4 linked regions of the Homo sapiens genome follow. The protein of the gene in region 3 binds, or shares a complex with, the protein of the main gene of each other region. Each region holds a gene or a part of one and is shown on either strand. Other genes may lie near its edges.

Region 1 (6,595 bases), on a different chromosome or scaffold from region 3:
AGAGATGCTGCTGGGCTCTTGGCTTGGCTCTCTAAGTCAGCAAAGCACGTAAGAAACCATACTTCATCTCTTAAATGACCTAAAGTCACAGAAATTCTGAATGCTTCTCAGAACATTCGACCAAATATCATGCTGTGCACTCCTGAGCTGGGTTCTGATAGAGGTGGCTATGAAGAAACTGGGCTGAGGTTTGAAAAGGGGATGGCCTCTAGTCATATATATATATATGTGTATATATATGTGTGTGTATATATATATATGTGTGTGTGTATGTATATGTATATGTATATGTATATGTATATGTATATGTATGTACGTGTGTATGTATTTAGAGGTGGGGGCCTCACTATGTTGCCCAGTCTGCTTTGAACTCCTGGGCTCAAGCCATCCTCCTGCCTCCACCTCCCGAGTAGCCAGGACTACAGGTGTGTGCCACAGCAACTGGCTCTACTCACATTTTACTCCTTGCTGCCTCTCTAGTCAACTCTTTGCACCTGGTAAGGATTCACCACAACTGCTTTCCCTTTAGAAAACTTTATTCTTAAGAAGAAGGCACAACATACTTTTTCTTTTATAAAAACACACAGGTCAATGTTTTTTAAAAACACAGCATAATTGTACAAGGGGAAACATTTTGTTAGTATAATCTTACCAATAATGTAAGAGAGGAAAGACTGCCATACTGAAATACATTTTGCTGCTGCCAAAGACGGTCCTATTGTGAAGAAATGAGAAAAAAATAGCAAGCGCCAGGGCCAATTAAGCATCCCTCTCCCCGTTTTTCTGAATACAACACAGTGATCCTCACCGTAACCCCTACACATGTTAATGGATTGTTAGAGTATCAAATTATTTTCAATGTGCTTTCTTGTTGTATAAACCTTTACCTGCACTTTCTATTTAAGGGGCAAAAAGGGAATGTGAGTGTAAAACACCTGCTCAGTGTGTGTCTGTTGGACTTTGGAGCAATTCAACAAACAAGCCTGCTCTGTTTAATCTATTTAGTGAGTGCAAGGCTTCTAAATCTTCCCCCTCAGCTACCTATATAAAAGACAAGACTGAAAAGGACAGCCACTCCTGGATGGCTGGAGAAGCATTTGGATTTAGACCGGGTTTAATTGGCATATGAAAAAGCAAAACGTCAGCTCTTCAGTCAGGCTCTGAGAAGCTCTCTTTATGTGGGGGGGACATAGGCTAAAGGCCCTGAGGCAAAGCCTGGGGTCACTTACATTCCAGCTACTCTCAATCCAAGTAGCAATTTCCCTCCCTCAGAAACCGGGTCTTCAGGAGCTTGGGGAGGGGAGCTTGGGGAGGGGCTCTGGAGTTGTGTTTTAAAGCAGTACATCTTAATATGAAGACAGGAATTTCTATGATGCTTACGAACATTAGACTCAACATTTTTGCAGCCCCCTTTCCTGGTCTACATTCACACAAACATGAGACACAGTCCCAAGGGAGAAACAGATGCTGGAGGAGCATTTAGGGCCAGAGTGGAGGCACAGAGGAAGCTGGGATTTTTCAACTACCCCCTCCTTGGTTACTCCTGGGATTCCCTTAGGATTTCACGGCACAACCAGCGAAGAGTTTGCTCAGATTCACTTCGGAGTAGCCACTTCGGGACAAGAATTGCTCTGCTGTGTTCTTGAGTTTTCTGTAGTCCTGCAGAACTTTGGGGGTAAAAAATTGCTTCTTCAATTTATCTAAAAAGAGAGAGAGAGAGATTAGAAGTCTCAGGTAGTTTCTTTAAAGAACATTCAGTATTCCACCAGAGAAGGGGATGCTGATTCCATTTGTATCTCCACCATCTTATCTCTGGTCTACCCCTGGGGCCAGTCAGATGCAGCCCCCGCCGACCATTCCTCTGTGAAAGCTTTTCTTCCTTTCCCCTGTCTGTCCGCCTCTCAGCACCTAGCTGACTCAGTGCACTGGGGGACAGGGCCACCCTCTACTGATGTGAACTGCAGGTGCACCCTCATGTGCAGCAGACAAGGTGAGCTCTACTCGCAGACGCCACTTTCACCGGCGCTGCGAGCACATGCATGCAACTGCTTGCGAAGTCTGGACGTGGCAGGAAACACCTAGTCTCAAAGGGAGCTATGGCCTCTGGTGCCTTCCAGCCCCAACTCCCCAGATCAGCTGGGCCTAGTAAGCATTTTCTAGTCCCTCCAGCCCAAGTCCCTCTGCTAAACAAAATTTCCTTTGCTGAAAGAGGCGAGAGGTGAGCGGCCCCGAGGGCACCTGTCTGTCCATGGCCAAGATTTCTTTGCTCTTCTTTGTCCACACTGTGTGAACTCAGGGTATGCGGCACTCCTGCTCCTTTAACCCATTCATCCCTGGCCTTTCCCTTCTGAGCAGGATGCTACCAGCCAGAGAAAAGACCCCTCTCCTTTCCCTTCCCAGAGCCTGCTACTTCTACATGTTGTTTTTTTTCTTTCTTTTTTTTTTTTTGAGACAGAGGTTTGCTCTTGTTGCCCAGTCTGGAGTGCAGTGGCGCGATCTCGGCTCACCGCAACCTCCGCCTCCCGGGTTCAAGTGATTCTCCTGCCTTGGCCTCCCAAAGTGCTGGGATTCCAGGCGTGAGCCACTGCGCCCGGCCCTACATGTTGTTCTTTTAAAGGAGCAGTGGGGCTGTGATGCTCAGGTCTGATCTTTTGGGTGAAGAGAGTGATCACGTGGGGGATGACGCTGTGTTCAGGAACCTGGTAAGGTGTCTGGAGAGGCTGCTTTCCCCGCGCCCCCCCCACCCCCAATCCCCATTTGATGGCTGAGGAAACTGGGAGGTTAAGTCACTTACCCAAGGTTACACAGCAGGTAATCAGAGTTGTAGACACGCAAACCCAGGTAGCCAGAACCCCCAGCCCGCACCTGAGGAGAGGCTCACTTCTGCCCACTCCCCCTGCCACTACATCACTACTCCCACATAGAAATTTGCAGGCCTCAGACATCAGCTGATCCTGAGGTGAGGCCTCCGCCCCCATAAGATGCTGGCCTGTGCCAAAGGGCCTGGGAGCAGCAAGGCTGCCCAGCACCTCCCGATAGGAACCGGTCAGGAAGGAAACACGGAGGGGAGAGCGCGCCACTCACAGAAAGCAAACCTCCAACAACAGCAACACGGGAAGTCTACAAAACACCCGGAAAACGAAAACTCAGACTCCAGATTTTTGTTTCTTGGCTATACATTCGCATTTGCTCTCCACAACCTTTTCTGAATTACATAAGTTGTCCTTTAAAGAACAACCACAGGTTTTATAGAGAATTAAAATGCCCAAAAGGGGTGGAAAAAGAGAGGGGGGCTGCAACAGAAAGACAATTTGAAAGTTCTAATGATCTGAGTCTGGGAATAAACAACAATGGCCCCAACCAGTGTCGGCTGCCTCCCGGCAGGCCAGAGCCACAGGCCAGCAACCCCGTGCATGTGAATGACACAAATGCATCTGATGACTGGGGAGAGCACATTTAAAGAGCTGCGGTAATACGGAGCAGGGGAGGAAAAGAGAGGACATAGCTCCTGATGTGTTTACCTCCTCTGCTGATGGGATATTGACTTTTCCCACCAGGTTGGTTAGAAAGGGGACTATTTACGCTGCCACACAGCAGAGTTAGAATGACAACCAGCGTCACTCGGTGCTCTTCCTCCTAAAAGACAACTGTGACCGCCAGCATATCCCATAGCCAGTCAATACGGCCAAGGCACCATTCCACGCCAGTTAGAGATGCAGATAAAAGCTCCCACTTGCTTCCCCAAAGAGAATTTAATCAATAACATATGGAAGGTCTTCTAGGAAACAGAACTGGACTAGCTGTCACAGGCTGCGTCAGGGACAGGGGCTGGTGGGGGGAAGGAGTCACCCCTTCCTGGTTTTTCTCTTCCCCCTTTAGGCACCTGGGCCACCCACGTTAGGCCTCACATTAAACTGTTACCCTGTTTCTGTCAATACTATATCCACCACTTTAGAACTCAAGGGAAAATACAGGTGTTAACTGGTGGAGGCCAGTTAATGTGGCCAGTAAAACCCTGATTCCTTTTCCTGCTTTGATTTTGAGAGTCAGCCTATCAGTAACGACGCCATCACCTCAGGTGCTGCAGGTCAGGTGCCCAATAACAACTGTTAAAAGATTCCAACATGCCATTAGGCAAGAGCCAGAGAAGATCCGCAGCCATCCCATCCCTGTCCACAGAGATGCCACTGGCCCTGGTAACTGCTGTCTCCGCCACCAGCACCACAAAGCCAACCTTTGTCGAGATCGGGGAGGAAATGCTCTTCCTACACACAAGTGCGTCACTGAAATATACTCTAATGGCTTGAAGTATCACCCAGAAATCACTCATCTTAATACATCAGCAAAGCTAATCTCCTTTTTAAACTTTTCTTGAGAATAACATTCGAGGAACGTGTATATAAAGCTTATTTACTCTGATCCTTTCTACATGCTCTGATTCCCTGTGGTTATATGTTAATTACCAAAAATATTCTGTCCCTAACCCCTATGAAAACGATGGAAAAAAAGGGTAGCCTAGATACTAATTATTCACAAAATATTTTATCAGACTACAAAATGAACTGCTCATTTAAAAGTTGATTTCTATTGATTAGAATCTAAAACCTCAAAATAATGAAAGTTACATTCTTTTCTATATGGGATGAACTAGACCATCATCTGTAGGTTGACCTTTCTTAAATATTTTATATAAAAGTCAACTGATCAAATAAAATGCTAGCTCTATTAAAATAATGGAGTATTCTCCCATCTAAGGAAACTAACTCTACTTCACATATTTTAGTTCCATGTCAGTAAACCAAAAATCTCTTTTCAACTTTACTCTTTATAAAACCCTTTTTGGACTTAAAGAAACACACTGAACTAGAAACCACGAGGCAAAGACATTTTAACATCGCCTACTGGTTATTTTCTTTTAATTAAGGCAGGCTTAGGCACACAGGCAGCAGCCGTCTCTGTTCTGAATGTCTGTTTCATTTATTTCTGTACAAAGGTATCAAACAACAGTCAGTTATAATTGATTCTGTCAGGTGTTATACAGTCAGTCATAATTGTCTCTGTGTAGAGGTGTGTCAATTTACTATATCTGAATTAAATATTCTGTCAATTATGAAATCAGGTAATAATTTCAGTCAGTTTTTTAATTGCATGGCTTCCCACCATACAGTTCTCAGTTCTCCCACCTTTTCCAATCCATAGCCTCCCTCCCTCAATGCAACGTGAGCTTTGCAGTAAGGGGTGGAATGCAGGAAGCTTTAGAAAAATTTGAAAGAAAACTGCACCCCTCTACGCTCTCTACACGTAGAGCCATCCGACCTACAGAGAGCTGCTGGAGCCTCTGGCCTGCCTTTTTCCTGAATATCGATCCATATAACTGAGCTTCCGGCTATGCACAGTACCTGAAAGATTTCAAGTGACATCCATATTTTAAACTCAAAGACATTTAGGGCCCCAAATCAAATGGCAAGTACATAAACATTTCTCAAAGTAAGAAATGAAAAGAAATAATCTTTGAGTCAATTCTTATTTAGAAAAAAAAAATTCACAAGGCACAGTGCCAGGCACACACAGTGATCAATGTGTCTATCAATTAGCCAATGCCTAGAGGACCATTCTCACCCATTAAATCACATCTTAGATGCTAAAATATTTCTGAAGGCTTGAAGAGTCTGTTAGTCCACTATCCAGTTCCATTCCTACTTAGAAATAATTATCTTCAGTTTTCTTTCTTTTTTCTTCTTTTATGTTGATACCAAAATACAGCCTTCAAGAAGAATAAAATATCCATGGTTTAGCTCAAGTGCTCTACTAGGCTGTAGGCTGATCTGACAAGTATTTAGAAGTGTGATTATAATTCTCTCCACCATTGGTCTGGTTCATGTTCAATAAACACAGGCTTGCTGCAGCCTGGTGGTGGTGAACAGTGACCCTTCACACTCAAAGCAAATGGAGGTGCCATGGGGCCCAACTACCAGGAAGGGTTGTTCAGTGGAAGTTTGGGGAAGAGCAGAGGCCGATGCGAGAAGGGAGGAGACAGAATAAAGCAATGTAAAGAATGCCACTTCTATAGACAAGAATAGAAGGTAAGAGTCGTGCCCCTTACCATGTTTCAGTGGCAAAAGAGTCACCTTGAAAGAGATAAAAAATTTCCTTTCAACTGGATGAAGTGATTCTCTCAGGGTTGGGTTTTGGGTGTTTGCATTTGTCATGTCGGAAGAAAATTGCCCATGCAGCCCCCTTGCTGAGGTTATAAAAAGTACTGTCAACCATACTGGACAGAATTTTTTTTTGGGTGGGTGTGGGGGGGGAGGTTGTAGAGAAGGAAAAAAAAAAAAGAAACACATTGTGCAGGATCATTAAGCACTGTTGTATAAATAAAGTTAGAAGATCAAACGAAAGAGGGGACTCGGGTTAAATGCTGGAAGACAAGCTTAAATAAAGTTCTAAGAAAAAAGCAAGGCACGCTGTAATTCCAAGAACCTATTACTTCAGACAATTTACTTCAAAAAATAAAATCAGAATGGTAAATGATTACCAAAAAGCAATCATGTCATCATCACTGAGAGATGGAATAAAATAATTTTTTGTGAAGTGG
Region 2 (7,319 bases), on a different chromosome or scaffold from region 3:
TTAACTTGTTTATTGTCTCTCTTCCCCATTAGAAGATTTATAAGAGCAGGATTTTTTGGCTCTCTCATCATTCTCATATCCCCAGCATAGAAAATGTTGCCTGGCACTTAGTAAGTGTTTAATTACTATTTCTGGAACACACCAAATAATGCTGATATATGGAAGGGTAGTGTTTCTTCACCGTGCTACCATTAAGAATGTGCTTTCTGTCAGTTCTCCTGCTCCTTGATTTTGACTAATAAAGCAATCTAAAGCAAATGGAGAGAGAATGAAGTGCTTTCTTTAGGTTGTTTCCCAGCCAACTCCGAGAGGTAGGCAGTGAAATGGGGAGGGTGGAGGGCCAGAGGTTGGCTAACTCTGCATTAGCTTTTATGGGTCAGCTATCTTGCTGGAAATACCTCATGTTCTCTGCTTTTCATGGCAAACACAGCTGGTAGGACCTAGAATTTACAGCATGCTTACTCAGTAAAGAAGCTTACCACGCCTTTGGTTTTCAGGGCGACACACCCCGCTCAGAAGAGGAATGAACACTCACTTAGATTTACCAAGCATGGCAACTAAATTCTCAGCTGTAAGTGTGACACTTTTTGGGATAGAAGTTCTGGAGCTGTGGAGGAGTTATCTCAGGGTGAATGCCACGTGGGGCAGTCTGTCTGTAGCTGGGTAATGCCCAAGGCAGGCACTGAATTGAGCAGTGATGATTCATGGAAATTCTGCCAGAGAAGGTACTCTGTGCTTTATTACAGGCTAAACTAGGAAGCCAACTCATTCTGGAAGGAATGTGTATAATGTTTTCAGATGAGGACTTGAAGTTTTATAGGTTGGAGTCACATTTGATTCAAACCATCTGTTTAATGGGAAGCTGAACCCAGCATTTTTTTTCATATGTCTCTCACAGTATTCAACAATTCAGTATGGGCTGGGCGCAGTGGCTCACGCCTATAATCCCAGCACTTAGGGAGGCCGAGGCAGGTGGATCACCTGAGGTCAGGAGTCTGAGACCAGCCTGGCCAACGTGGTGAAACCCCGTCTCTACTAAAAAAGCAAAAAAATAGCTGGGCATGGTGGCAGGCGCCTGTAATCCCAGCTACTCGGGAGGCTGAGGTAGGAGAATTGCCTGAACCCAGGAGTTGGAGGTTGCAATGAGCCGAGATCATGCTACTGCACTCCAGCCTGGGCAACAGAGCGAGACTTCGTCTCAAAAAACAAAACAAAACCAAAGAAAAAACAAAAACAATTCAGTTTCATAAGTATTTATTGAGGGCCCATGGAGTGCCAGGCACTGGGGTCACAGAAATGAATGAAACAGTCATCCCTGTTTTTGAGATGCTATGGTTCAGTGGAAGTAAAACTTACATGTTTATGTATGTTTTCCTTCCCATGATTGTGAGGTCAATGTCTGTATTTACAAGAATCTTGGTTGCCAGGGCTGAGCATTGTGTCAATCAATTTTTTGTAGATGAAGTGAATACATGAAAGAGCTCACAGTGATTTACTGAACATGGCTGCTGAAATGTATAACATTATTGTGCATTATTGCTACCGTGATATGCGGATTTATATTGCAATTGCCTCTGGATTCAGAAAAACACCCTTCACAGTGAGGTAGTGACCAAAACTGTGGCATTAGGAAACAATAAAAATGCTGGAATAGCTGACCAACACAGGGTATTTTGTTCCCCGGGGCTTAAAATCAGTTTTTAATATGATGAAAAGGCAGCTATTATGTGACATAGTAAGATATTGGTATGTTAAGCATGAACATATATTTCCAGTTTTCTCTGAGCTGGTCATGAAATGACACTGGCTACTTCGTCTTTTAATTGGGCAGATATTGTAGGAAGTACTTTGGGGATCACAGAGATGAACAAAAGGGCTCATCCAAAGAAAGCTTAAAACCTAGTAGTGCTGGAATTCTTAACTAGCCACATATGGTGATCTTGAACCTCTTGAAATAGTATAGATGTGTGTGTAGGTGCATTTTTCTGAAGAGAGCTTTCATCACATTGTCCAGTGGTTCATAGACCTAATTAACATCCCTCTACTACAGAAGTTCTTAATCTTGATCTTCCAAAAGATAAAGAACTTCTGTAGTAGAGGGCTATAATTATTTAAAGAACTACACCATATGGGAGTCATGAAGAGCCTCAGGGGTTTAAATGAGGAGCAAAACAGGTGGCAACACTGAGTAGTTTCATTATAAAATCCTTGACAATTTTGCAGGAGAAAATTTCTTTGCCTCTAGTGATAAAAACATTTTTCATATTTAACAGTAGTTATTTTTTCTATGAGTTACCTCTTCTTCTTCTTGTCCTATTTTTCTGTTTGTGTCTTAGGATTTTTTTCCTAATGAGTTAACTTCTTTGTATCCTGATGGCATTAACCTTTTCGATGTTATACTTTTGGTAGACCTTTCTCTAGTTTGATGAGTGCAAAATACTTCTGTGAATTTTTTACATGCATAATTTTATACTTTTTATGGTCAAGTCTTTATATCTTTTTTCTTTGTAATTTATAATATTTAAATTTGTTTGCTATCCAGAGATAAGATATTCATGTAAATATTCTTATGGTCTGTGATGCAGGTTTTTTCAGGCAGTTTATATGCTTTCAGGTGTCTTCTTTGGACCACGTGATGTATTTGTATTACGTATTTGTATTATGTATTTAATACAGAGAGGAAGAAATGAGGTGAAGCTCTGCTGTCATATTACTGGAATTGGTGTAGTGAGATCGTTAGCACAGTGGGGCCTGGAGAGTTTCTCTGGGTTTGAACATGGCTCTGACATTTTGTGTCCTTTTGACTTCATTTAACTTCTCTGTTCTTCAGTTTCCGTATCTAGAAAATACGTTTAATATAATAACCTTTGGGAGGCCGAGGTGGGCGGATCACGAGGTCAGGAGTTCGAGACCAGCTTGCCAACATGGTGAAACCCCATCTTTACTAAAAATACAAAAATTAGCCAGGCGCCTGTAATCCCAGCTATTTGGGAGGCTGAGGCAGGAGAATCGCTTGAATCCCGGAGGCGGAGGTTGCAGTGAGCCAAGATCGCTCCACTGCACTCCAGCCTGGGCGACAGAACAAGACTCTGTCTCGGGTATTGGTGGTGGGTCGGGGGGAATAACCTATCTTATGTGGTTATGATAATAAAATGAGTTGATATGTAAACCACTTAGAACAGGTCCTGATATAAAGTCAGTGCCAGCCACAGTTTAGTCCAGGCTGGGTAGATGCTTTGAAGCTTGATATTGTTTCAATGTACTTTGCATTTCTAAAAACGTGAACATTTCAAAGCATTCATTTGATCTCCTAAGGACTACCTATACCGGAGCCTCATTCCAGCACATTTGTAAGCGAGGCACGCCTCCTAGAGGCCACGAGTGAAGTTAATTTCCAGTTCTCGAAAATCTTACAGACAGCGGAGAACTGGTGTGGTGGCTCTGACGCCCCGCTTGTGAGTCTGCAGTCGGACATCTGGAAAGTAAGCGGCACGTCCGCGTGATTTCCAGTGCTTCATCTTCTTCCACCCTACCTTCCCTCCGAGGCTGGGTTCTTCTAATTCCTGTAGATTGCAGAGCGATTCCTGCGAATGTGCCTTCTTTCATTCATTCTAGTTCATTCCACAGATAATTCAGCTGCGCGCTTCCTCTGTGCGAGGCATTGCCGGAGAGCGGGGAGCGAATTGAACGTGGAACCTGCCAGTAGGGGCTTGCCGCCCAATACGAAATTCAAAATATGTATTGTATGTAGACGGGCAAACTAACGAGGATCTTGTAACTTGTTTTCTCATCTGCCAAATGGGGGTAATACGATCTTATAGGACCTTATAGGTCGCTGAAAGATTAAACGAGCGGAAAAAAAAGAGCCCCTAATAGTGAGCTAGGTGCAAAAAAGATCCTAATGCCTTTTTTCCTCATTCCTCCCCAGATTGAAAGTGATGAGTGCCAGCCCTGAGGGTTAAAGCGCCATATTTTCCTCAATATAGGGAATATTTGTTAGTGTCCCCAGACGAAGTTACATTGGTTCAATTTTCGGCGTGTGGGAGTTTTCGCCACTAGCATTCAGCACCCCAGTTTCAACCGTTAAAGCTACCGACTCCACATACAGGAAATGCATCTTAAAATTTGGAAAAAAAATCCCCAAAACACTGACATCCAAACACTTTAAAGCTGCCAAGGTGGACGGAACACCTTGAATTCCCAGACGCGCTCCACTGAGCATGCCCAGAGCCTCAGGCCAAACCCCCTCCTACCCGCCAAGGGGAGGTGGGGCAGGGCTGGCCTTCTGTGCTAGTCACTTCCTCTTCCGGTTTCATATGAACTCTCCCGCCACCCGGGAACAGTGGCTGCCACCGTTTGTGTTTTCCCGAGTTTGAATTCTTGCAGGTAGGGGAAACTTCCGCGAATTTAGGACAGAGAGCAATCCTGTTATTAAGGCTTGCAAGTCGAGAGAAAGGAGAGATGGATCACTTTGCAGGCAGCAGTAGCAGAAGGACAGACTTGGCGGGTTGGTTGTTTGGGGCAGACACCCAGGTACCAGGGAGGAGTTGGGGAGAGATAGGTTTGCCAGTGGAGTGAGGAGGGGTGTTGGGGATGGAACTTTTGTAAGGCACTTGTGGATGCTCCCGAAAAGGAGTTCCGAAAGACAGTTGCTCTGTTTCCCAGAGTCATAACAGAGGAAGTGAGTAACTGGACCCAGTCCATCAAGTAAGACCCTCATTTAGCCAGAACCTACAGCACTTTCCTCTAAGTTCAGGATTGCAGACCACGTAAAACCTTATGTTAACTCTTGGGATCGTAAAGATCCAAGAACAGTGACACACAGGCCTATAATGAGCAGGCAACATCACCTGACTTTCATGTTGCTGAAAATTAGGATCACCACCTGCATCTGCTCTAGCGCCTCTCCCACCCCCATTACAAAATTATTATAGGTGTATTGTAGAAAATCTGGAAACGAGAGAAGGACATCACCCAGGAATTGCCACTGCTAACATTTTGTGCATGCCCTCAAATCCATTTTTTTTCTGTGTTTGTGGAATTATTTTTTCGTGTTTTTTCTTTTTTTTCCCCCAACTTTGTTTTCCATCATTTTACGCTTTTTGTGTACTTCCTTCTAAGGTGACCAAGATGGAGTTTTCTGGAAGAAAGTGGAGGAAGCTGAGGTTGGCAGGTGACCAGAGGAATGCTTCCTACCCTCATTGCCTTCAGTTTTACTTGCAGCCACCTTCTGAAAACATATCTTTAATAGAATTTGAAAACTTGGCTATTGATAGAGTTAAATGTAAGTACTATTTAAATTAGAATGTATATATTCTTGAGAAGCTCACTTACCCTTTGTGAGAATGAATGAAGGTAATTCATTTCCTTCATTCAGCAATCCATTCAACAAGTATTTATTGAGGTAATTCATATCCTTCATTCAGCAATCCATTCAACAAATATTTGTTGAGGGTTTGGTACTCATTCATTTATTTATTGTACAATGCATATTATTGAGTGCCATTATGTTCTAGGTGGCAGGGATTTTGAGATGAATAATGTTATTTTTTGTTGAAGTTTTATTCTAGTACATGGAGACAGACATCCAAAATAATAGTCATAATTCAGTATTTTAACTGCTCTAGTAGAAGTAAATGGTAGTGCTGTTGAAACAAAGAAGTGGGAGTGACTGACTTAGTCTTATTAAATGAGCTTCTTAGAGAAGTTGAAATGTGATCTGGACATACTGAAGAATGAGTAGAAATTTTCCAGCAGAGAAGAAGTGAAGAGTTTTTCCAAGCTGAGATAATGGCCTATGCAAAGGCTTGGAGCATGAAAGAGAATTTCATATTTGAGCTAACAGTAACAAGTTCAGGAATTCAGGGTGGATGGAGAAGTATGGAGGGCATTTTGTGCCATGCTAATGATATGATATTGGGGTGTAAGAAGGATGTGGCCACCGTCCTGGGGGCCTACTTAATCCTCAGTGTGTTGCTAGAGAAAAGAATGGGCTAGACATGAATTGAAACAGAAACACTAGCGTTGTCTTCAGAGTTTATGTTCCAGGATATCCCTGTGGGGAAATCAGAAGGAAAGGTGAGATACTGTTAATCATTCTTAGAGGAGCAGGGTAAGCACTGCTAATACAGAGAGGAGGCACTCAGTGCCTGTGTGTTGAATGAAAGAATGAAGACAAGGGAGAAAAGGGTTTTAGAAAGCTTAGCAGTGTCAATACTTCATAGGGATTAAGATGGTGATTGAAAAGTGTCCCTTGGGTTTGGCACTTGAGGTGAAATGATAAGGGCCTGAACTATGATAATGACAATGGCAGTGGTAGGAAGGGAGAGAGTTAAGGGATACTGAGGAGTTAGCATTGATAGGATTTGGTGACTGGATATGAGGAGTGAGGGAGCAGGTGTGGAGTGGCTGCAGTTCCTGCTTGGATGATCTGATGCATGGAAACTCTGCTGCTGGAGATGGGCATGGCAGGACGAAGAGTAGGAATGAGGGGAGGATAATTAATTTGGATACCCATACCTGTGGGACATGGGGTTTATGTTCAGGAGACAATTAGAAGTTCTTCATTCTTGACTTCAAAAATGCCTCCAGAGAATAATTCATCTGAGGAAAGATTGATATGGTGCTTTAGGAACCTTTGAACAGTATGTAGCATCTGTTCAGGATGGTTCATTTGGCTGTTTGGATGGCCTTTCTTCTTCACTGTTGTGCTCTGTCCTCGGCTTCATCAGGAAAGGAAGGGATGCTTTTTTTCTGTTGAATCTATGCCAAGTAAATGATGCCTACTGCCTAACAGGCAGCTCCCATACGAAGGATGCAAACAAGGAGTGCCTAGTTTTTTTTTCCATACTGACATACTTTTCTGTTCCTCAGGAATGATTATTCACCATCCATCCCTCTTCCCTGATTGAGAATCCCTGGTATTAAATTATGCTGTGGGACATGGATATTTTCTGCACATAGATGGACATTATCCTCTTATAAGCATATGTAGTTTATATGATGTCGTTACAGGAAATAAACTGGCAATTACCTGTCATGTTCTGTAAACAAGTAATTATGGAATTGCCCTCCATAGATTTTGTCTTGGATTTAGTTTTAAAACATTATCTTGCATTTATACCTTTTTTCTTTTTTTTAGTGTTAAAATCAGTTGAAAATCTTGGAGTGAGCTATGTGAAAGGAACTGAACAATACCAGAGTAAGTTGGAGAGTGAGCTTCGGAAGCTCAAGTTTTCCTACAGAGTAAGTAAAAAAGGAAAAAAAAGTTCCTTCAGTTTCTATGCATTTATGTATTGAGTGTCACTTGTGGGAAAGAT
Region 3 (7,026 bases):
TACAGGCATGAGCCACTGTGCCCGGCCGGATACAGCTGTTGAGTTTAACATTTGTGGGGTGGGTTGTTTTGTTGTTGAGATGGAGTCTCACTCTGTTGCCCAGGCTGTAGCACAGTGGCACAATCTCAGCTCACTGCAACCTTCACCTTGCAGATTTAAGCAATTTTCCTGCCTCAGCCTCCAGAGTAGCTAGGATTACAGATGTGCACCACCATGCCCTGCTGATTTTTCTATTTTTAGTAGAGATGGGGTTTCACCATGTTGGCCAGGCTGGTCTCGATCTCCTGACCTCACGTGATCCACCCACCTCTGCCTCCCAAAGTGCTGGGAGTACAGGCATGAGCCACCACGCCCAGTCAACATTTATATTTCAAGAAATGTTAATAACTACTTTCTGAATATTTGTAAGACACCCTTGTGGTAATACATACTTAAAACTAAATTGTTCATTGATGTTCCCTAAATGAGTCTGTTCCTTAATGACCCATCACCAATTCATGATGAACTTCAACAAAGCTTCCAAAAGTCTCACAATTCACTTCAGCGTTGGGAGCACTTGAAGAAAGTAGCCAGCAGATATCAGGTATATGCCACTGAAATCTGTATTACAGATATAATAATGCAATTCTTAATTAAATTGATTGCTTTGCCTAGTCAGTTAAAGATGGTTGAAGATCGTTTTTTTAACTTTCTTTAAAGAAATCTTCAACAGTTCCTACTGATCCTCATGTTGGCCTTGTATCTGCTTTTAGAATAACATCAAAAATGACAAATATGGACCCTGGCTGGAGTGGGAGATTATGCTCCAGTACTGTTTTCCACGGCTGGATATCAATGTCAGCAAAGGAATCAATCATCTACTGAAGAGCCCTTTTAGTGTTCATCCTAAAACAGGTACTACACAAGGAAACTAAGGAAAACTAAAAGAAAAATGAGTTGCTATTGGCTTTAGTAAGCATGGCATTAGGTCTGAATATATATAATGTCTATGATTTAAAGGTAGAAGAATTGCTCTGTCACCCAATACCTAAGTCAGTTAAGTAGCTACCAGATGAGTTTCTACTATGTAACTGTTTTTCAGTTGGGTTTCTGAGGTTCCATATTAGATTTGGAGAGGACCATCAAAATCTTAGGACAACAGCTCTCATTGTACAGATGAGAAAACAGTGGCCCAAGATGTAACCCATCCAAGGTCATAAAAAAAAAATTGTGTGTGACTGTATGTGGTAGCTTGCTCCTGTAATCCCAGCACTTGAGGAGGGCAAGGTGGGCAAATCACTTGAGCCCCAGAGTCTAACACCAGCCTAGGCCACATGTCTAAACACCCTTTGTACAAAAAATACAAAAATTAGCTAGACGTGGTGGTGCATGCCTGTAGTTCCAGCTACTCAAGAGGCTGAGGCAGGAGGATCACTTGAGCCTGGGAAGTTGAGGCTGCAGTGAGCTGTGATGGTGCCACTGCACTCCAGCCTGGGCAACAGAGTGAGACCCTGTCTCAAAAAAAAGAAAAAAAGAAAGAAATGAAATGAACTCTACTCCTAGCACTGACAAAAACAAAAAAAAATTTTTTTCGAGAAAGAGTCTCACTCTGTCACCCAGGCTGGAGTGCACTGGTGCAATCTCGGCTCACCGATCGGCTCAAGCGATCCTTCTGCCTCACCCTCCTGAGTAGCTGGTACTACAGGCATGTGCTACCACAGCCAGCTAATATTTTGTAGACAGGGTTTTGCCATGTTGCCCAGGTTGGTCTTGAACTCTTGAGCTCAAGCAATTCACCTGCCCCAGTCTCCCAAAGTGCTGGGATTACAGACAAGAGCCACTGCGCCCAGCCTCATTACGTCACTTTTGAGATGTGTTAAATTCTATATGGTATCCTAGGGGGGTATTATAAAAGAGTAGAGGAATTTCTATTTTATTTCCTAAATGCTTTTTAAAGGTGTCTGACATGTGGGTATCTGTATTGATCTCAAATAAACCAAGCCAATGTAAATATTATAGTTTCATCTATTTTGTTCTATTTTCAGGACTCACTAACTCTGAGATTGTTCTGAACTTAAATATGGAATATTTAAATATACTTTATTTCTAAATATAGAAATAAAAGTAGGGATAAGAGCAACTGGGAAATAGCTCAACAGTCTTCACATTTGCTTATTGGTTTTTGTTTTTGTTTTTTTTCTTTCCTTTTTTTTCGAGACAGAGTCCCACTCTGTCACCCAGGCTGGAGTACAGTGGCGCGATCTTGGCTCACTGCAGCCTCTGCCTTCCAGGTTCAAGCAATTCTCTGCCTCACCCTCCCAAGTAGCTGGGATTACAGGTACCCGCCACCACACCCAGCTAATTTTTGTATTTTTAGTAGAGACGGGGTTTCACCATCTTGGCCAGGCTGGTCTTGAACTCCTGACCTTGTGATCCACCCTCCTCAGCCTCCCAGAGTGCTGGGATTACAGGCGTGAGCCACTGCACCTGGCTGGTTTTTTAAAGAGAAATAAAAGGCATGCTGGACATGGTCATTCACACCTGTAATCCCAGCAACTCAGGAGGCTGAGGCAAGAGGATTGTTTGAGGCCAGGAGTTCTGGGCAACATAGTGAGACCCCAACTCAACAAAAATTGAAAAACTGGCCAGGCCAGGAGCAGTAGCTCACGTCTATAATCCTAGCACTTTGGGAGACAACTGAGGTGGGAGGATCACTTGAGCCCAGGACATCAAGCCTGCAGTGAGCTATGACCATGCTACTGTATGTACTCTAGCATGGGTGACAAAGTGAGGCATTAACTCTAAAAAAGAGTAAGGGCACAGCTAATGTGAAAGTAATTTATATTTCTAAATACTCTTCTTAACAGATAAGTTTAACCCTTTGTCTAAGCCTTAAATAAAAATTTTAACCAAAAATAACCTGTAGGAGATGACTATAATGATTTATAGTCCACAATCATCAGTTTATAACTTTTGTGTCTTACAGGTCGCATATCTGTGCCTATTGATTTGCAGAAAGTGGACCAGTTTGATCCATTTACTGTTCCGACCATAAGGTATGTTTCAGATCATTGATCACTCCTTGTTTGTAATTGTTGTTATGAATTTTAAATAAATTGAATTAGCCTCCTTAGAGAAGTAGTTGCATGGGAATGGTATATTTGGTTATGGAAACCAAATAAGGTTCAAAGGTTAGATGACGATGCCCTAATAGAACAATACAAGATTTTCACCTGCTGTTATGTAAGAAAAAGATTTTAAGGTCAAGTAAATTTAGGAAATTCTGACTTAAACAGATTAAAAGTATCTTTTACTACAGTATTTCACAGTCTTTCATATGATAATATGCATGAAAAACTCCAAGAAGAGATCATGGTGTTTAGAATATCCCAAATTTAGCTGGCCGCATAATTTTTTTACAGTAAATTTTATGGGATTCACATGCTATTATACACTGGATAATGCTGATCAGAAACCAACATTAAACTTCTCTTGTTCGTGGTGAGGCGCGGTGGCTCATGCCTGTAATCCCAACACTTTGGGAGGGCAAAGCGCGTGGATCACAAGGTCAAGAGATCGAGACCATCCTGGCCAACATGGTGAAACCCTGTCTCTACTAAAAATACAAAAATTAGCTGCGCTTGGTGGCATATGCCTGTAGTCCCAGCTACTTGGGAGGCTGAGGCAGAAGAATCACTTGAACCTGGGAGGCGGAGGTTGCAGTGAGCCAAGATCGCACCACCACACTCCGGCCTGGCAACAGAGCAAGACTCCGTCTCAAAAACAAAAACAAAAACAAAATTCTCTTGTTCTGTTACTTGCAGCTTCATCTGCCGTGAATTGGATGCCATTTCCACTAATGAAGAGGAAAAAGAGGAGAATGAAGCTGAATCTGATGTCAAACATAGAACCAGAGGTAAGGTAATATTTTGAAGCTTCACTTTAAATACAGGGTTTTTATATAGATATCCATCTGTCACTCCAGTAATTAATTCTCTGATTCAACTAGAATGGATCAGCATTTGTCCTGGAACTGCATACAATGTTTGTGTCCTTTCTTCAACAGCAGCCCAAGTGGTGTTATTGAATCCAGTCTGATTCAACACATATTTCCTAAGTAACTTTTAATGCTAGGATCTATACTGTAAGATTAAACTATCAATAAGTATGAATAATCAGTCTCTGAGATTCACCACCTATTTATTTAACAACTATTATATATGCAGTACTTTTTTTCTTTGTTTCTGATGCATATAGGTGGGTTTTATGGTAAACATATGTCTAAACTGTTTACCAAGTTGTATATTCAAGAATTTGAAGAAGCTGGCTGGGCGCAGTGGCTCACGCCTGTAATCCCGGCTCTTTGGGAGGCCGAGGCAGGCAAATCACTTGAGGTCAGGAGTTCAAGACCAGCCTGGCCAACATGGTGAAACCCCAACTCTGCTAAATATACAAAAATCAACCAGGCATGGTGGAGGGCACCTGTAATCCCAGCTACTCGGGAAGCTGAGTCAGGAGAATCGCTTGAACCCAGGAGGCAGGGGTTGCAGTGAGCCAAGATTGTGCCACTGCACTCCAGCCTGGGCGGCAGAGGGAGACTGTCTCAAATAAACAAACAAAAAAAAAGAATTTGAAGAAGCTAAGGAATTTCTAAATCTTCCTGCTAATGGAAGGCAAATCTAACACCTAAGAGATACTGCAGGCCAGGCGCGATGGCTCACACCTGTAATCCCAGCACTTTGGGAGGCCCAGGTGGGTTGATCACCTGAGGTCCTGAGTTCGAGACCGGCCTGACCAACATGGAGAAACCCTGTCTATCCTAAAAATACAGAATTAGCCGGCTGTGGTGGCACATGCCTGTAATCCCAGCTGCTCGGAAGGCAGAGGCAGGAGAATCGCTTGAACTCAGGAGGTGGAGGTTGCGGTGAGCCAAGATCACGCCATTGCACTCCAGCCTGGGCAACAAGAGCAAAACTCCGTCTCAAAAAAAAAAAAAAAGATGCCGCATAGCAGCGCAGCACTCCCCAACCTTTTTGGCATCAGGTACCAGTTTTGTGGAAGACAATTTTTGCACGGACTGCAAAGAGAGGGGGAGGAGTTGGGGATGGTTCCAGGATGAAACTTTTTTACCTCAGATCATCAGGCATTAGATTCTGATAAGGAGTGCGCAACCTAGATCCCTCACATGCGCAGTTCACAATAGGGTTCATGCTCCTTTGAGAATTTAGTGCTTCTGCTGATCTAACATAAGGCAGAGCTCAGGCGGTAATGCTCGCTTACTGCTCACCTCACACCTGTAATCCCAGCACTTTGGGAGGCCGAGGCAAGAGGAGCCTAGGAGTTTGAGACCACCCTGGGCAACACAGAGAGACCCTGTCTCTCCAAAAAAAAAAATTTAGCTAGACATGCTGGCAGGCACCTGTGGTCTCAGCTACTCAAGAGGCTGTTTGAGCCCAGGAGGTTAAGGCTGCAGTAAGCCTTGACCACACCACTGTACTCCAGCCTGGGTGTCAGAGAGAGACCTTGTCTCAAAATGAAAATTATGTGGCCGGGCGCAGTAGCTCACGCCTGTAATCCCAGCACTCTGGGAGGTCAAGGTGGGTGGATCACCTGAGGTCAGGAGTTTGGGACCAGCCTGGCCAACACGGTTAAACCCCGTCTCTACTAAAAATACAAAAATTAGCCAGGCATGGTGGTGCACACCTGTAGTCCCAGCTATTCAGGAGGCTGAGGCACAAGAATCACTTGAGCCCGGGAGGCAGAGGTTGCAGGGAGCTGAAGTTGCGCCACTGCACTCCAGCCTGGGAAACAGAGTGAGACTTCGTCTCAAAAAAAAAAAAAGTATAATTTCTTTCTTACTCTTTTTAAAGAACTATTATGAGGATTCTTAATTCCATGCAAACGTAGGATACTACTAAAATCCAAATTTTATGTGAAACTCCTTTCTTATTCTCAATCATATTTTCCCATTGGGTATCATTATAGGTTATATAATTAAATGGATGAATAAAATTGTATATTCTTTTTTTTTTTTTTTTTTTTTTTTTTTTTAGAGAAAGAGTCTTACTCTGTCACCCAGGCTGGTGTGCAATGGTGCAATCTCAGCTCATTGCAACCTCCGCCTCCTGGGTTCAAGCAATTCTCCTGCCTCAGCCTCCTGAGTAGCTGGAGTTACAGGTGCCCGCCACGACGTCCAGCTAATTTTTGTATTTTTACTAGAGACAGGGTTTCTCCATGTTGGTCAGGCTGGTCTCGAACTCACGACCTCACGTAATCCACCTGCCTCGGCCTCCCAAAGTGCTGGGATTATAGGCATGAGCCACCGCACCCTGCCTATATTAAATTTTTTGTTGTATACATTTTTTAAACTATTTTATAAATCAAAGAATACTTAATGCAGGCCAGGCGTAGTGGCTGATGCCTGTAGGCCCAGCACTTTGGGAGCCTGAGGCGGGTGGATCACCTGAGGTCAGGAGTTCAAGACCAGCCTGGCCAACATGGCGAAACCCCATCTTTACTAAAAATACAAAAATTATCTGGGCGTCGTGGCGGGCGCCTATAATCCTAGCTACTCGGGAGGCTGAGGCAGAAGAATCGCTTGAACCCAGGAGGTGGAGGTTGCAATAAGCCGAGATTGCCCCACTGCACTCCAGCCTGGGAGACAGAGCAAGACTCCATCTCAAAAAAAAAAAAACAAGAATACTCAATGTAAAAACTTCTAATAATCTCCAAAAGGGCGTGACCAGAGCCTGAGCAACACAAGACCTTGTCTCTACTAAAAATAAAAAATTAGCCAGCTGTGGTGGCACTCCCTGTGATCCCAGCTACTTGGGAGGCTGAGGTGGGAGGATCATTTAAGCCAGGGAAGTCAAAGCTGCAGTGAGCTGCAATTGCACCACTGCATTCTAGCCTGGGCAAAAAAGCAAGACAGTGTCTCAAAAATAAGACATGGGGCCGGGCACGGTGGCTCACGCCTGTAATCCCAGCACTTTGGGAGACTGAGGCAGGTGGATCACGAGGTCAAGAGATCAAAACCATCTTGGACAG
Region 4 (7,026 bases), on a different chromosome or scaffold from region 3:
TCTAGGTGGTTTTATATCCACCAGAATTTCAAAGGGAAAAACAATCACCTTCTCGAATGTCTGGGAGCTTCTGAAACATGGATTTGTAGCTCCCAGTTAGTGCCTCTGGACATCCCAAGACCTTCAGGCTGATGTTTCCAGCTCCTCCTCTCCCAGACCAAGATACTCCCTGTGCTAAGCCGAAGGAGGTAACCACTTCTCCTCGGTTACTTCGTGAGTTGTATTTCTGGGAGGGAGTAGCACTAATTGGAAGCAAAACAGGTTAATATTACTGTGTTCATATCTAAAGGGAGAGAAGAATAAAATGAGGTTACCTTTGGAAATGGGGACTGGAGAAAAGGAAGGTGGCCTCATAGTTTATAAATTGAATCAGTTTAATGGGGTTGGACATACCCAGACCTTTAAGGAATTTCAGGAATGAAGGGCTGAGGAATACCAGGCTGAGGAATACCAAACATTTTTAGAGAAGTTTAGAGACAGAAACGTATTTTAAAAAGTTGTCGTTCTCTTGGCATTAAAACTAAGCAAGGCAAAAAGATCCCCAGATTCTGAATTGATTAAAAGGCAAACTTTAAGTCCCATTTTTTTCTTCTCATGAATTTTTAGCATTTATTGGAACATCATCTGAGCCTGCAACTGTGGATAAGCTAAAACTTGCTGAGCATATATAAAAACTCACAATATGGTTCAAGGTAGAAACAACAATAAAATGAAATTCAAATTAATCAATTTTCCCCAGTGTCTATGGAGGTGGGTAAGTAATGAATTAACAGTCTGGTGATGTGCAAACATTCCCATTTTTCTAGGCTCAACTGCCAAGTTCTCACATTTCCACTCCCTGACTGGTAAATTATACCTCTAAGAACACATGGATATTGCTGATCTGCTTAGATGACAGTGAGGTCTTCTAATCCTCTGGTTGTAAACACGCCGTACAGAGAGGTCTATTTAAAACAGGCTTTGTTTAATGCACTGAAACTCTGCGGGAACCAGTTTTATGTGGGGCACCATCGCAATTAATGCCATCATTCTTTCTTTTCACAGCCTACAGAAAATGAGCTCAATTAATTATCTCAATCTCCAGTGCCACCTCTACGTGAATAGTTTAGAAGTTACTTTCATACATTACAAAACCAGTTTCTGCTGTCAGCTTTATTAGTGTGCATTAAAAAATGACTAGGCAGCATTTTGCCAGCTTCTCCAAGCTCTTCCCTGGGAAGCTCCATGAGCCATCCATTACAGCAGGCCCTTTAATGCAGCAAGATGCTCACATGAGGACAGTTGTAAACAGATCTACAGGTTTCAGAGCATTGTATTGACATTTGGAGAATATAACTCCTGCAATGGTGCTGGCACGTCTATAAGAACCATCCCTACATACCAGGTTGCAAAGATGCTCTTAAGTCTAGAAAGCTTTCTTCCAAAAAGCCTGAGAACTCCCCAAAGCAGCAGTAGACTACCCTAAAGTAAAACTGTCCTTCAAAATCCAATTACTGCCAGGCATGCTGGCTCATGCCTGTAATCCCAGTACTTTGGGAGGCTAAGGCAGGCAGATTGCTTGAGGCCAGGAGTTCGAGACCAGCTTGAGCAACATGGTAAAACCCCATCTCTACAAAAATTATAAAAATTAGCTGGGCTTGGTAGCATACACCTGTAGTCCCAGCTACTCAGGAGGCTGAGGTAGGAGGATCACCTGAGCCTGGAAGGCCAAGGCTACAGTGAGCTATAGTTGTGCCACTGCACTCCAGCCTGGGCAACAGAGTAAAAGCCTATCTTAAAAAAAAAAAAAAAAGAAAGAAAAGAAAAAAAAAATCCAATGACCACTCACCTTGAATGACTGCAGAGCTTCTATCACCACCTTTCTAAAGTGATAGAGCTGAAAAGGCCGAGAGCAGTGGCACATGCTTGACATCCTACACTTTGGGAGGCCAAGGCGGGTGGATCACCTGAGGTCAGGAGTGCAAGATCAGCCTGGCCAACAGGCGAAACCTCGTCTCTACTAAAAATACAAAAATTAGCCAGGCATGGTGGCGAGCGCCTGTAGACCCAGCTACTCGGGAAGCTGAGGCAGGAGAATCGCTTGAACCGGGAGGCAGAGGCTTCAGTAAGCCAAGATGGTGCCACTGCACTCCAGCCTGGGTGACAGAGTGAGAGTCCATCTCAAAAAAAAAAAAAAAAAAAGTGATAGAGTTGAACAATCTTAAGCTCTGGTTCATCTAGAAGTGATCCAAAGTAGAGGTAATGACTCCTGGCAGTTGGTGTTTCCCTGAAGGGTTAATACTACTGCTCCGGAGCCTCATCTTGATGTGGAAACTCCTAAAAACCCATCTACTCAGCAGAGCACTTGCCTATGGAATTCTCTAATATGAGACGTGTCATTTATGGATTTCAAAAAATTACATATGATCTTTGTGGATTTATGTGCAATGGTGGCAGAGGGACAAAATACCAATTAAGTCAGGGCAGAGTCACAGTGACAAGAAAACTCTCAGAAACTAGTTCTAACCTGACTTGGAAACAATAAACAGGTTATGAAACATTATGAACAAAGATATGTGCTTTTCTTTAAAAAAAAAAACTTTAGATGAAAAGAAAGAAAAAGAAACCCAACAAAACACAAACAGAAGCAGGTGGAAACCTACTTGCCTCTACTGACAAGACCTGTTAAGACTCTTAGACTTCTGAATAGACAGGTTGTTTTCAATACAAGATATCAGTTCCCGATCTAGGAAATGAGCCCTAGAAAAGTGGGTGGAAAGTGAGTTTCCTTAATTACCGTAAGAAACAGTAATTTTCCACAAAGAAAAGGAGAGCAAGGAAGGCAGAGAGCAATAGGCTTTCAAGCCAATTCACTGCAGAGGTACATGCCCACCTATAGTTAATTAATAACTCTGCTGTTAGCCTTCCTCAGATAGCCAGAGAAAGGGGAGGGGAGGCCAGCTTTATGGCACTTGAATGAATTATGATCCATACCTTGGAGAGAAACTTGACGGTGAGAGTAGCTGATGGGGGCTACGAGTTGACACACTCCTTTTTGTTAGGGGGGTTTCTGGGGTAGAGATAGCTCGCTTCTGAGAACCCTAGGGAAAAAAAAGGAAAACAAAATCTCAGTCCTACTAGACCCAATACTAATTAAGTGTATAGTACCTTGGAAGAAAAGGGAGAACATGTCCAAACGAAGGCACAAAATAGGACTGGGTGGGTTCTCTTCTTAAGGCCCCATCATCCAAGCATAATCTCAAAAAGAAATCTTCAACAACTGTAACCAACATTCAGGACACTGTCCCTATTTTGAAGGCAATTACGAGAAAGCAAACATTTTCCAAAAAGGACCACCAGGCTGGTAATGTGTCCTGTCAAATCCTTCATATGTTTACTTTCTGTCCCTACCTCTATGTTTTCAAACAGATATGAGTTTTACAATGCATAGTTTTGATCTATGTGTACACATTTTCCTGAGAAGGAATGGGACATTACTACTTACTTTGGCAAAGTCTACCATACATTTTCAAAGGAAATGACTCCAGGCAGATAACAAGGTTGAGCTCATACTTGAAGAGTTAGCAAACATCTGATGGTCACTCCTTTTTTTTTTTTTTTTTTTTGACTCATCAACAAGAATCCAAAGATAAGCCCAGAACGGAGGCTGAAACCTACAGTCCAGAGACCTATTGCTCCCTAAAGTCTAGGATAATCGACTGTAATAGAGAAAACAAAATCCTTGCCTGGATAGCAGCCAGGAAGCCAGCTAGTCTGCAGCTTTCCCTGCCCTAGGGCTCCTCCTGGCTGCAAGTTTAAGAAGTTATATTGCAGAGTGGTCAGCTGGTGGCAACTGCAGGACAGAATGCCAGAGAACAGATTCAAAACCATCAAAACCAGCTGCAATGGAAAATAGATTAAAAAAAAAATCCCTTATTCTACTACCCTGATATAATAACCAGTTTTGAATATTCCTTAATGGTATTTTAATATTTTTCTAGGCCAGGGGTGGTGGCTCATGCCTGTAATCCCAGCACTCTGGGAGGTCAAGGTGGGAGGATCACCTGAGCCCAGGAGTTCAAGACCAGCCTGGGCAACGGCGAGACCTCATGTCTGAGGAGGAAAAAGAAAAGCCAGGCGTGGTGCCTTATAATTTGTATATTAAGATTACAAATACACAAATTAGAATATACAAATTATAGTCATAATCTTAGTTTAAATATAAACCTAAGTATTTTATGTGCTGAATTTTTTCACTCTATATTAATTATCAACATTTTCCCACACTGTTACATTTTTAATCTTTTTTTTTTTTTTGAGATGGAGTCACTGTCACCCACGCTGGGGCACAGTGGCAAGATCTCGGCTCACTACAACCTCTGCCTCCTGGGTTCAAGCGATGCTGCTGCCTCAGCCTCTAGAGTAGCTGGGACTACAGGTGCCCGCCACCACATCCAGCTAATTTTTGTATCTTTAGTAGAGATGGGGTTTTGTCATGTTGGCCAGGCTGGTCTCAAACTCCTGACCTCAATTGATCCACCTGCCTCGGCCTCCCAAAATGCTGGAATTACACCCATGAGCTACTGCACCTGACCCAATCTTTTTCCCTTTTTTTTTTTCCGAGACGGAATTTCACTTCGCTCTTGTTGCCCAGGCTGGAGTGCGATGTGCGATCTCGGCTCACTGCAACCTCAGCTCACTGCAACTCCACCTCCCGTGTTCAAGTGATTCTCTGGCCTCAGCCTCTTGAGTAGCTGGGACTACAGGCATGCACCACCACGCCCAGCTAATTTTGTATTTCTAGTAGAGATGTGAGTTTCGCCATGTTGGTCAGGCTGGTCTCGAACTCCTGATCTCAGGTGATCCACCTGCCTCGGCCTCCCAAAGTGCTGGGATTACAGGTCTTTATCCTTTTTAGTAGCTGTGTTATTTAATTAAACTGACCTACAATGATTTACATAATTACTTCTCTATTGCTGGATTATGGGTTGCTTGTAATTTTCAGTGATTACAAGTAATGCTGAGTCTCAGGTGAAAAGTGATTTGGCAAATTAAGATTTTAAATTAAAAAAATGCTAAAATGCGTATCTTCATGCATACAGCTTTTCCCATAATTTGAATTATTTCTTCAGAAGAGTTTTTTTTTTCCCCCTAGGGAGAATTACTGGGTCAAATGATAGAAAAAGATTTTATGAATTTGGCCAGGGATGGTGGCTCGTGCCTGTAATCCTAGCATTTTAGGAGGCTGAGGCAGGAGGATCACTTGAGCTCAGGAGTTCAAGACCAGCCTGAGCAACATAGTGACACCCTGCCTTTATTTTTTTTATAATTAAAAAAAAAAGATTTTATAATTTTAACACATTTTCTCAAACTATCCCTCCAAAAGATTCTCCTAATATACAGTGGGCTACAACACTCCACGGCCAGTGTTGTGGGGCAGGGATATTTTGAGAGAATGACAGTCTGTCTCGCAAGACGTGGCAAGGTGACAGCACTTTGGTAAACAAGGCACAGTCTGGTGTTCTAGTCCTCAGCCTCAGGGCTGAAATCCAATAGTGTTCACCAACTCCAGTACCAGTTCTCAAGGATGCGCTCCCTTTAACCAAGCTCATACGATTCATTATTAACACTTAATGCCAATTTCATCATGTTTTTTTGTTGTTGTTGTTTTTGTTTTTTGAGACGGAGGGTTGCCCAGGGTGGAGTGTGCAGTGGCATGATCTCAGCTCACTGTAACCTCCGCCTCCTGGGTTCAGGCAATTCTCCTGCCTCAGCCTCCTGAGTAGCTGGGATTACAGGCATGTGCCACCATGCCGGGATAATTTTTGTATTTTTAGTAGAGATGGGGTTTTGCCATTTTGGCCAGGCTGGTCTCGAACTCCTGACCTCAGGTGATCCATCCACCTTGGCCTCCCAAAGTGCTAGGATTACAGGCATAAGCCACTGCGCCTGGCTAGTTTCATCTTTTCTTTTTTTTTTTTGAGATGGAGTTTTGCTCTGATTGCCCAGGCTGGAGTGCAGTGGCACGATCTCAGCTCACTGCAACCTCCGCCTCTGTTCAAGCAATTCTCCTGCCTCAGCCTCCCGAGTAGCTGGGATTACAGGCGCCCGCTGCCACGCCCGGCTAATATTTTTGTATTTTTAGTAGAGACAGGGTTTCACCATGTTGGCCAGGCTGGTCTTGAACTCCTGACCTCAGGTGATCCACCCATCTCAGCCTCCCAAAGTGCTGGGATTACAGGCGTGAGCCACCGCAGTGGCCGGTTTCATCATTTTTAATCAGAAATGTAGTCACCAATGGTACCATATTTTCATATCCTAGGGTAAGCACATTCTCACACTCACAGAGAAAATCAAATTATAACCAAGGATGCCAGTTTATTAATTTACTAGAAATATAATTGCCAAGGGTATGGGAACGTCAAGTCCTCAGGCTAACACATTCTCTCCGTTAGGGACATGGCAGCCAAATCATCAGCAGATTTATGGTGAACACGGAAGCAAAAGAACAGCTGTCAATCGTACAGGTGAAATATTTAATAGTGATAAGCTAAAATCACTGACATATCATATTTACCTCTATAGCAGAGGGACACCTGTTCCCAAGACCTGACAAGGGTCAGGCAACCTCAGCCTGGCACTGTTTGTATGGAAAGGCCAACATTCACACTTTTCTTTTTTTTTGAGATGGAGTCTCACTTTCTCGCCCAGGCTGAAGTGCAATGGCATGATCTCAGCTCACTGCAACCTCCGCCTCCTGGGTTCAAGTGTTTCTTCTGTCTCAGCCTCTCGAGTAGCTGGGATTACAGACACCCACCATCATGCCTAGCTAATTTTTGTACTTTTGTAGCGATGGGGTTTCACCATGGTGGCCAGACTGGTCTCGAACCCCTGACCTCCAGTGATCCTCCCACCTCGGCCTCCCAAAGTGCTGGGATTACAGGTGTGAGCCACCATGCCTGGCCACACTTTGACTATTTTATCATGCTGCCATTGATGCATGGCCTAACAGTGACTGAACAATTTCCATGTGATAAGTACTGTTCT

Evidence for each region.
Region 1: the proteins of PRIM1 (region 3) and POLA1 are in contact, whole or in part, in a cryo-EM structure (PDB 7OPL), measured with the Homo sapiens proteins. Residues at the interface, in NP_000937.1 of Homo sapiens: Asn92, Thr93, Val94, Lys95, Leu96, Gly97, Ala98; in NP_058633.2 of Homo sapiens: Tyr439, Ala440, Pro447, Glu448, Lys449, Ser450, Phe876, Thr877, Thr878, Gln880, Leu906.
Region 2: the proteins of PRIM1 (region 3) and PRIM2 are in contact, whole or in part, in a crystal structure (PDB 5EXR), measured with the Homo sapiens proteins. Residues at the interface, in NP_000937.1 of Homo sapiens: Lys147, Glu148, Asp149, Phe150, Gly151, Phe152, Ala180, Val181, Gly184, Ile185, Glu187, Tyr188, Ser190, Leu191, Lys193, Lys207, Ile208, His209, Pro210, Ile212, Arg213; in NP_000938.2 of Homo sapiens: Glu165, Ala168, Ser169, Pro171, Ser172, Phe188, Ala189, Leu192, Phe195, Arg196, Gly197, Arg198, Val200, Tyr201, Leu202, Glu203, Asp204, Gly205, Phe206.
Region 4: PRIM1 (region 3) and POLA2 share a complex: the UniProt entries of both Homo sapiens proteins name them as parts of the alpha DNA polymerase complex.

The regions. Positions count from the first base shown.
Region 1 is NC_000023.11:24,990,910-24,997,504, reverse strand, and holds the end of POLA1 (DNA polymerase alpha catalytic subunit), read right to left. Parts: intron 1,701-6,595; coding exon 1,555-1,700; 3' UTR 519-1,554; downstream 1-518. UniProt on the Homo sapiens protein: Catalytic subunit of the DNA polymerase alpha complex (also known as the alpha DNA polymerase-primase complex) which plays an essential role in the initiation of DNA synthesis.
Region 2 is NC_000006.12:57,313,316-57,320,634, forward strand, and holds the start of PRIM2 (DNA primase large subunit), read left to right. Parts: upstream 1-4,314; 5' UTR 4,315-4,386; intron 4,387-5,121; 5' UTR 5,122-5,130; coding exon 5,131-5,284; intron 5,285-7,141; coding exon 7,142-7,245; intron 7,246-7,319. UniProt on the Homo sapiens protein: Regulatory subunit of the DNA primase complex and component of the DNA polymerase alpha complex (also known as the alpha DNA polymerase-primase complex) which play an essential role in the initiation of DNA synthesis.
Region 3 is NC_000012.12:56,735,303-56,742,328, reverse strand, and holds part of PRIM1 (DNA primase small subunit), read left to right. Parts: intron 1-491; coding exon 492-583; intron 584-752; coding exon 753-894; intron 895-2,965; coding exon 2,966-3,035; intron 3,036-3,803; coding exon 3,804-3,895; intron 3,896-7,026. UniProt on the Homo sapiens protein: Catalytic subunit of the DNA primase complex and component of the DNA polymerase alpha complex (also known as the alpha DNA polymerase-primase complex - primosome/replisome) which play an essential role in the initiation of DNA synthesis.
Region 4 is NC_000011.10:65,271,946-65,278,971, reverse strand, and holds part of POLA2 (DNA polymerase alpha subunit B), read right to left. Parts: intron 3,081-7,026; coding exon 2,974-3,080; intron 243-2,973; coding exon 49-242; intron 1-48. UniProt on the Homo sapiens protein: Accessory subunit of the DNA polymerase alpha complex (also known as the alpha DNA polymerase-primase complex) which plays an essential role in the initiation of DNA synthesis.